Homo sapiens: one gene and its partner. The protein of the gene in region 2 purifies or fractionates together with the protein of the main gene of each other region. This does not show direct contact. Each region holds a gene or a part of one and is shown on either strand. Other genes may lie near its edges.

The links. Proteins that work in one complex are often made in the same cells at the same time.
Region 1: the proteins of SLC2A9 (region 2) and NUP107 purify together in Homo sapiens (affinity purification with mass spectrometry; one large-scale study listed by BioGRID and IntAct). This does not show direct contact.

Annotation. Positions count from the first base shown.
Region 1 is NC_000012.12:68,724,978-68,728,477, forward strand, and holds part of NUP107 (nuclear pore complex protein Nup107), read left to right. Parts: intron 1-749; coding exon 750-819; intron 820-1,521; coding exon 1,522-1,640; intron 1,641-2,373; coding exon 2,374-2,412; intron 2,413-3,500. UniProt on the Homo sapiens protein: Plays a role in the nuclear pore complex (NPC) assembly and/or maintenance. Required for the assembly of peripheral proteins into the NPC. May anchor NUP62 to the NPC. Involved in nephrogenesis.
Region 2 is NC_000004.12:9,825,724-9,829,497, forward strand, and holds the end of SLC2A9 (solute carrier family 2, facilitated glucose transporter member 9), read right to left. Parts: intron 878-3,774; coding exon 674-877; 3' UTR 501-673; downstream 1-500. UniProt on the Homo sapiens protein: High-capacity urate transporter, which may play a role in the urate reabsorption by proximal tubules. May have a residual high-affinity, low-capacity glucose and fructose transporter activity. Transports urate at rates 45- to 60-fold faster than glucose.

The DNA of each region.
Region 1 (3,500 bases), on a different chromosome or scaffold from region 2:
GTGACATTTCATTTCAGAGGGAAAGGGATGGTTTATTTAAATAAATGGCGCTGGCATAATTGGCTTTCCATCCAGAAGAAAACAAAGCTAGATCCTACTTCATGCCATGTAACTAAAATAAATTCCATATAGAGCAAAGGTTTGAATGTAAAAATTAATAAATGCTGAAAGAAAATTTAGACAGCCAACTAAATAAAAATTAAAATACGTTTGACAACAAAAAATGAACTATATTCTTCAAAAAATCAAGCTGCAAATAAGTTAGAAAAGGTTTTCTCTACTCTGTACCTGATCACTATTTTTTTTTTTCACCCTTGGTGCCATGTACAGAAGAGAATACTCAAAGAATGCTTTCATGTACTGCTGCTCATGTTGAAAGAAATCTTAATAGTTTATTTTGCTTAGGTCACATGAGTTCTTCCTTTCTCGTCCACCATGTGTAGTGCCAAGGTAAATAGGAATAAAATATAAGAATAAAAGTTTAATACCATTGAGAGATTAAATTGTTATAACATAGGTCTCTACTTTCAAAGATGCTTTTCAGTTCTGGATTTGTAAGCTGTGAGTATATTCCAAAGGCAGTATCCTTTCCATGTTTTATTTTGTTTTGATCTTTCTAAGGCCCTTCATTTCCAGCTTTTTCTTTCTATATGTTCCTTCAAAAGTTTAACATTTTTAGTTTAACAGTGAATATATACTACAGAATGACTGCTAGAAGATTTATGGAAAATTAAAAACTTTTTTTTCAGAGAGTTCTGGAAGAGAATCAAGAACATTATCATATAGTTCAAAAGTTTCTTATCCTGGGAGACATTGATGGTAAGATATGGTTTTATTTTACTTTGTGTTTTTTGTGTGTGTTTTTTTTTTTTTTTTTGAGACAAAGTCTCACCCTGTTGCCCAGACTGGAGTGCAGTGGCTCAGTCTCAGCTCACTGCAACCTCTGTCTCCTGGGTTCACAAGATCCTTCAGTCTCAGCCTCCTGAGTAGCTGGGATTACAGGTGTGCACCACTACGCCTGGCTAATTTTTGTATTTTTAGTAGAGACGGGGTTTCGCTGTTGGCCAGGCTGGTCTCCAACTCCTGACGTCAGGTGATCTTCCCTCCCTGGCCTCCCAAAGTGCTATATGTTATAGACATGGGATTGCAGGCATGAGCGACTGCACCCAGCCAGTTTTATTTTACTCTTTATGAGTTCTTCATTGTCTTATAGTGATTTTTTAAAGTTATCCAAACAATGCATGTGACTTACCATATCTTTTAATCTTGATAAATATTAACCTATTTGAATGCAACTATTTACTTTATGTCAGAGGTGACCTTTCATTTGGTTTTTATAAAATAAAGTTCGGATTGAACCCAAACTCTGTTTCAAAGAGGGTGTAGAGTTATATCATGGCTATTAATTATGAGACAGTGACTTGAAAGCACTATAGGAGTGAAATAAATGTTCTTGGTAATGTTTATTTTTTTCTTTTGATTTTATTCCTATTGTTGAATCTTCACTTTGATGGCTTGTAGGTTTGATGGATGAGTTTAGCAAATGGCTTTCCAAAAGCAGAAACAATCTACCTGGACACCTGCTTCGCTTTATGACTCACCTTATTTTGTTTTTCCGTACTCTGGGACTACAGACCAAGGTATATAAAAATGAACGATTTCTTCTTCTCTGTAATGTTGATGCTATATACCTATTGTCAAGAAAACACTACTTTTTTTATTATTGTTTTCTAGAAATGGTGATAAGGAATCAAAAGTCTTCCATATAGTCTTGTATAGTCACTCAATGATAACTCACTGAGAGTGGCCCTTTAGGGTTCTAGTCTGTGGCCACAGAATGCTGTTGGTTAACTGGTTTTTAATAAATTCATAACTTTATCCTTGTCTGTACCCAGCTTTAAATCAACCAGCTAAGCTAACTAAACAAAGTGAGTGCTATGTGAGATTTTAAAACTTTGTTGGTTGTTGTTTTGTTGCTTTTTTTCTAAAAAAGAAGATAACATTTTGGTCAGAGTGCATGTAGAAAGTGAATGATACAGTAGTTGAAAGCTTGGGCTTTGGAGTAGGAGTCCTGAGTATATACCCTTATTCAGCAGCTTCTATCTGTGTAACTCTGGGTAAATAAAACTTCCCTTGGTCCTAATTTCATCCTCTGTAAAATGTGAACAATAATAGTAACTACCCAAAAAGAGTTATGGTAAGGTTAAATCAGGCAGTAGATGAACTTTGGTAAGCACTTAGCTTGGTGTATAGTTACTGCTCAGTGGTAAACATTACAATTATTAAATTATTTAATAATGGAATTTGTATCAAAAATTTTGTTACTTTCATATAAGCAGTGTATTTATAATTATGTCTTTTTTTCCTATGAAGGAGGAAGTTTCTATTGAAGTTTTAAAGACATACATACAGGTAAACTTTGAGAACCTACAACCTGATTGTTTTTTACTATTTTAATGAAAACAAAACTCAGAATGATGCTATTTTAATTCTCAGTGGTAAGAAAGCATCAGAATCCATAAGAGATCTTTTAATTATCAGCACAGTTGACCTTTGAATAATGCAGGGATTAGGAAAACAACCCCCACCGCCCCGCACAATCAAAAATTCACTATAACTTTTGACTCCCCAAAAACCTAACTACTGATACCCTACTGCTGACCAGAAATCATACCAATAACATAAACACACAATTAACACATTTTGTATATTACATGTATCATATGCAGTCATCCCTCAGTATACTTGGGGGATTGGCTCCAGGACCCCCACATATAACAAAATCTGTGTATACTCATGTCCCACAGTTGGCCCTGCAGAACCTGCATATACGAAAAATTGGCCTTCCATATTTGCAGATTTCACATCCAGATAACACTGTATTTTCTAAGTTGAGTTGAAAAAAATTTATGCAGAAGTGGACCTGCACAGTTCAATCCCGTGTTGTTCAAAGCTCAACTGTACTGTATTCTTATGATAATGTAAGTTAGAGAAAAGAAAACATTACTAAGAAAATCATAAGGGGCTCGGCGAGGTGGCTCATACCGGTAATCCCAACACTTTGGGAGGCAGAGGCGAGAGGACTGCTTGAGTCCAGACGTTTGAGATCAGCCTGGGCAACATAGGGAGACCCTTCTCTCTACTACAAAAAATTTTTTTAAATTAGCAGGGCACAGTGGTTCATATCTGTAAACCCAGCTACTCGGGAGGCTGAGGCAGGAAGATCGAGTGAGCCCAGGAGTTGGAGGTTGCAGTGAGCTGTGATCTCGCCACTGCCCTCCAGCTGGGTGACAGAGTGAGACCATCTCAAAAAAAAAAAAAAAAAACAATCAGGCCAGACGTGGTGGCTTGCGCCTGTAATCCCAGCACTTTGGGAAACAGAGGTGGGTGGATCGCTTGAGCCCAGGAGTTCAAGACTAGCCTGGGAAACAGCGAAAACCTGTCTTTTTTTTTTTTTTTTTTTTGAGACGGAGTCTTGCGCTGTCACCCGGGCTGGAGTG
Region 2 (3,774 bases):
CCCTGAAGTTTTGAGCCCATTCCTGGAACACAGTTTGGGAAAGACAAAATCTGCAGGCTGGTGTGTTGGTATTAGGCTCTCCAAAGCCTGAGATCCACAAGGTCAAATATTGGAAACAGGCATTTCTTAGGCACTATGAATAATCTTTCCACTGACTTCTGAAAGCCTATATCAGGGATGGAAGCCTAGGGTCATTGAGGCACTGGGATCCAGGTTGAGGGCAGGTCAAGGCTGCTTGTGGTAAAGCTGGGACTAGAACCTCAGTCTGTGATCTCTAATCCGTTGAGTCCCCTATCAGACCAAATTGATTTTTCTTTGATAAAGCATTAACCTACTATTTCCCCAATTTCATTTTGAAATCATGGGTTGAGTCATGAAGAAGGCAGGTCATCTACCTATATAGAAGAACGCTGGGTCTACTGAAACATAGAGTGATTCCTTGCAGCTTCCAGAAGGGTTTGGGAGATTCAGTTGTGAATAATGCTAACACAGTTGCAATGTTAGATTAGTACAGGTTTACTTTTAAATATTTAATAATATAAAAGACTTGCATAGCTTCAATTCATTTAAGCTTCCCAATAATGGGTAAATTTTAAGTTTCCTGAAAAGTGAGATCATCCATGTAGACAATCCTGTTTTTGACATAATTGTCCAACGTGGAGGAGGAAACTTGTTAAGGCCTTCCATTTATCTTACCATCAGTGACAGCTGAGTCGATTTTCTCTTCTGGTGGGTATGCTTTGTTCCTTTTGGAAAATGCCTGGCTGATTTCTGCATAGGTTCTGTTTTTGGTCTCAGGCAGCACAAAATACAGGTAGATAGCACCTGTGATACAAATTGTAGCAAAGACTAGGAAACAGTAGGTGTCCAGACTTTTCTGTGGAAAGGCAGAGACAAAAACCCTCAAATAGATAATCAGTAAACTTGCTGTTAAACCATCTCTACACAGATTTTTAAGATAGCTCCACATTCATATACCAATACTCCTAGACAAAACACCATGTGTGATGCTGGCTCAATAAGGCAAGTGTACCCTACATGAAGTGTTATCACATAAGGCTTGAATAAATCAGCTTCAAACTCTGGGAAAGATGAGAAAATGGCACTTTTTTGTTGTTGTTGTTGCAAATTTGGCATTTAAAAATTAATCATCACGAAAGCAAAATGGAATGCTTGCTGAATATTAGCTTAAGCTTATATTTACAATTAACCACATTGTCTTCTTGCTTCTACTATACACATGAGACAAGAATGACATCAAAAGGGAAGAGAAATGCCTTAGTTCATAGGAAGAATGTGGAGCACAGAATAGGCCAAGGTAATGCCAGTTTTTTCTAATATGCAAATGATCTAACTCACTAATTGATACTCTGAGGCGGCCTTGCACAAATAAGAGAGATCAGAAAAAATAGAAATGCTCAATGCAATCACTCCGTTTTATGTATCCTGATTAGTGTTTGGACTAGAATAACCCTGCCAACTGCACTAGACCTTGAGCTTCTCAGTGACTCAGTCACCTCTGTAGCTCCTGTGCCTTATAGGAGGTACTCAGGACATATTTGTGGAATAAAAGACTTGAAATCCTAGCCTCAATCAATCTGCTTGCTTTGGTCTCCCAGGTACTGGGATTATAGGCATGAGCCACCATTCCAGAAATAAAAGACTTTCTGGGTCCCAGCTGTCAGGATTGTGACTATTATATGCAACAAACATCTACTGATCCAAAGATAAGGTGACACTGTCTTTGAATAATATTTCCCAAGAAGCAATATCCAGATTTTAGTCAATTCCATTCTATTCTTTGATTTGACAAACATTTATTTTTGGAGAATGGCAAAGTGCTTAAGCTTGATCCCTGGATCACATCCTAGATCTACCATTTACTAAATCTGAGACTCTTTGTCCCTCAGTTTCCATGATTGAAAAAGAGGATAATCATGGTACATGTAGGGTTGTTGTATGAATTAAATGAGACATTCCCTTTAAAGTGCCACATGCAGTAAATGTTCCACACCTGGGGGTGCTTAGCTCTTGAGACTGTGCCTTCTGCTCGTACAAAGACTTCAAGAGTAGTGTGGAGAAGGGGGAGAGTATGGGCTCTGAAGCCAGTCGAGTGGGATTCAAATCCTGATCCCATTACTCACATGTTGTTCTAACACTTATGATGTGCCATTTAAGATAGAATTTCAATCCACTGAGCATCTGTTTCCTCATTTGCAACATGGTGATATATACCCACACATTGTTTTGAAGATGAAATGAGATATATCAATTTTGCATTCAACATCCTCCACACCCCCATCTGCAGGCGGAATGGACATCTGACTTATCAAGTCCAAAGTGGAGCCTCTAAAACTGCCTGCTCTAGCCTTCCTCATCTCTGCTGATGGCACCTCCATCCTTCTGATTGATTATGCCAACAAAAACACTTGGAGGCAGGCTGAGCTTCTCTCTCTCTCTCCCACCCACATCTGCTCCATCAGGAAATCATGTTGCTCCACCTTGAAATGTATTCCAAATCTGAGGGTTTGTCATCACTTCTATTGTAACCTAATTTTGGTGCAAGCCACCATCATGTTTTGCTTGGATTTTTGCAATAGCTTGTCAACTGATTTCCCTGCTTTTCACTTTAAGCATAATCTTAAGATTATTCTTAACAGACAAGCCAGAGTGATCCTGTTAAACAAAGGACAAAACTTGTCACTCCTCTGCTCAAAACCCACCATGACTTCCTAAGTCACCTGCAGGAAAGCCAAAGTCCTCACCATGGCCTCCAAGGCCACCGACCATGTGTCCCTCTTATTTCTCTGATCTTACTCTCCTCACTTTCTTTGCCCCAACTCCACTGCCTTTATGATTTCCCTCCAGTATTAGGCCTCAGAATCTTTGCACATGCTGTTCTCTCTTGCTGGAATAATCTTCGTTTAGGCCTCTGTATATCCTGCTTTCTTACTCCTCTTCATCCGACTTAAAGGTCATTTTCTCAGAGAGGTTCTCGTTGACTCTCATTTTGAAATAGCCCCTCCCAGCCCTGCTTCATTGCCTTCAAAAACACTCATCACTATGCAGCATTATAGTGTGCAACTGCCTGTTTATTAACCTTCTCCCTACCAAGAGGTAACTATCTGAAGGCAGGAGTCATCATTTTTCTTGTATTCCCAGAGCCCGGAGAGTCTCTGATATACAGTAGATGCTCTGAGTATCTTAGTGAGTGGATGGATGGACTGAGGCTCAGAGAGGCTTCCTGCCGTATCCCAGGCCACAAACAGGGCTTCCTAGGACCTCTCTGACACCCACACAGCTGCCTCTTGCTTGGCTTTCTTTTCCCAAGGGACCTGATGGGTGTCGTGAGGATTATTCTCACAGTTTCACAAAATTCAGTCAAGAACATGTGGCTCAGCCGAGCACAGTAGCTCACACCTGTAATCCCAGCACTTTGGGAGGCTGAGGTGGGTGGATCACTTGAGGTCAGAAGTTCAGGACCAGCCCGGCCAACATTGTGAAACCCCATCTCTACTAAAATTACAAAAATTAGCTAGGCGTGGTGGCAGTCGCCTGTTATCCCAGCTACTTGAGAGACTGAGGTAAAGATTAAAACTGGACCCCCTCCTTACACCTTATACAAAAATTAACTCAAGATGCTTAAAGACTTAAATGTAAAACCCAAAACTATAAAAACCCTAGAAGAAAATCTAGGCAATACCATTCGGGACATAGTCACGGGCAAAGATTTCATGACAAAAATGTCAAAAAAAAAAAAAAAGAAGAGCAACA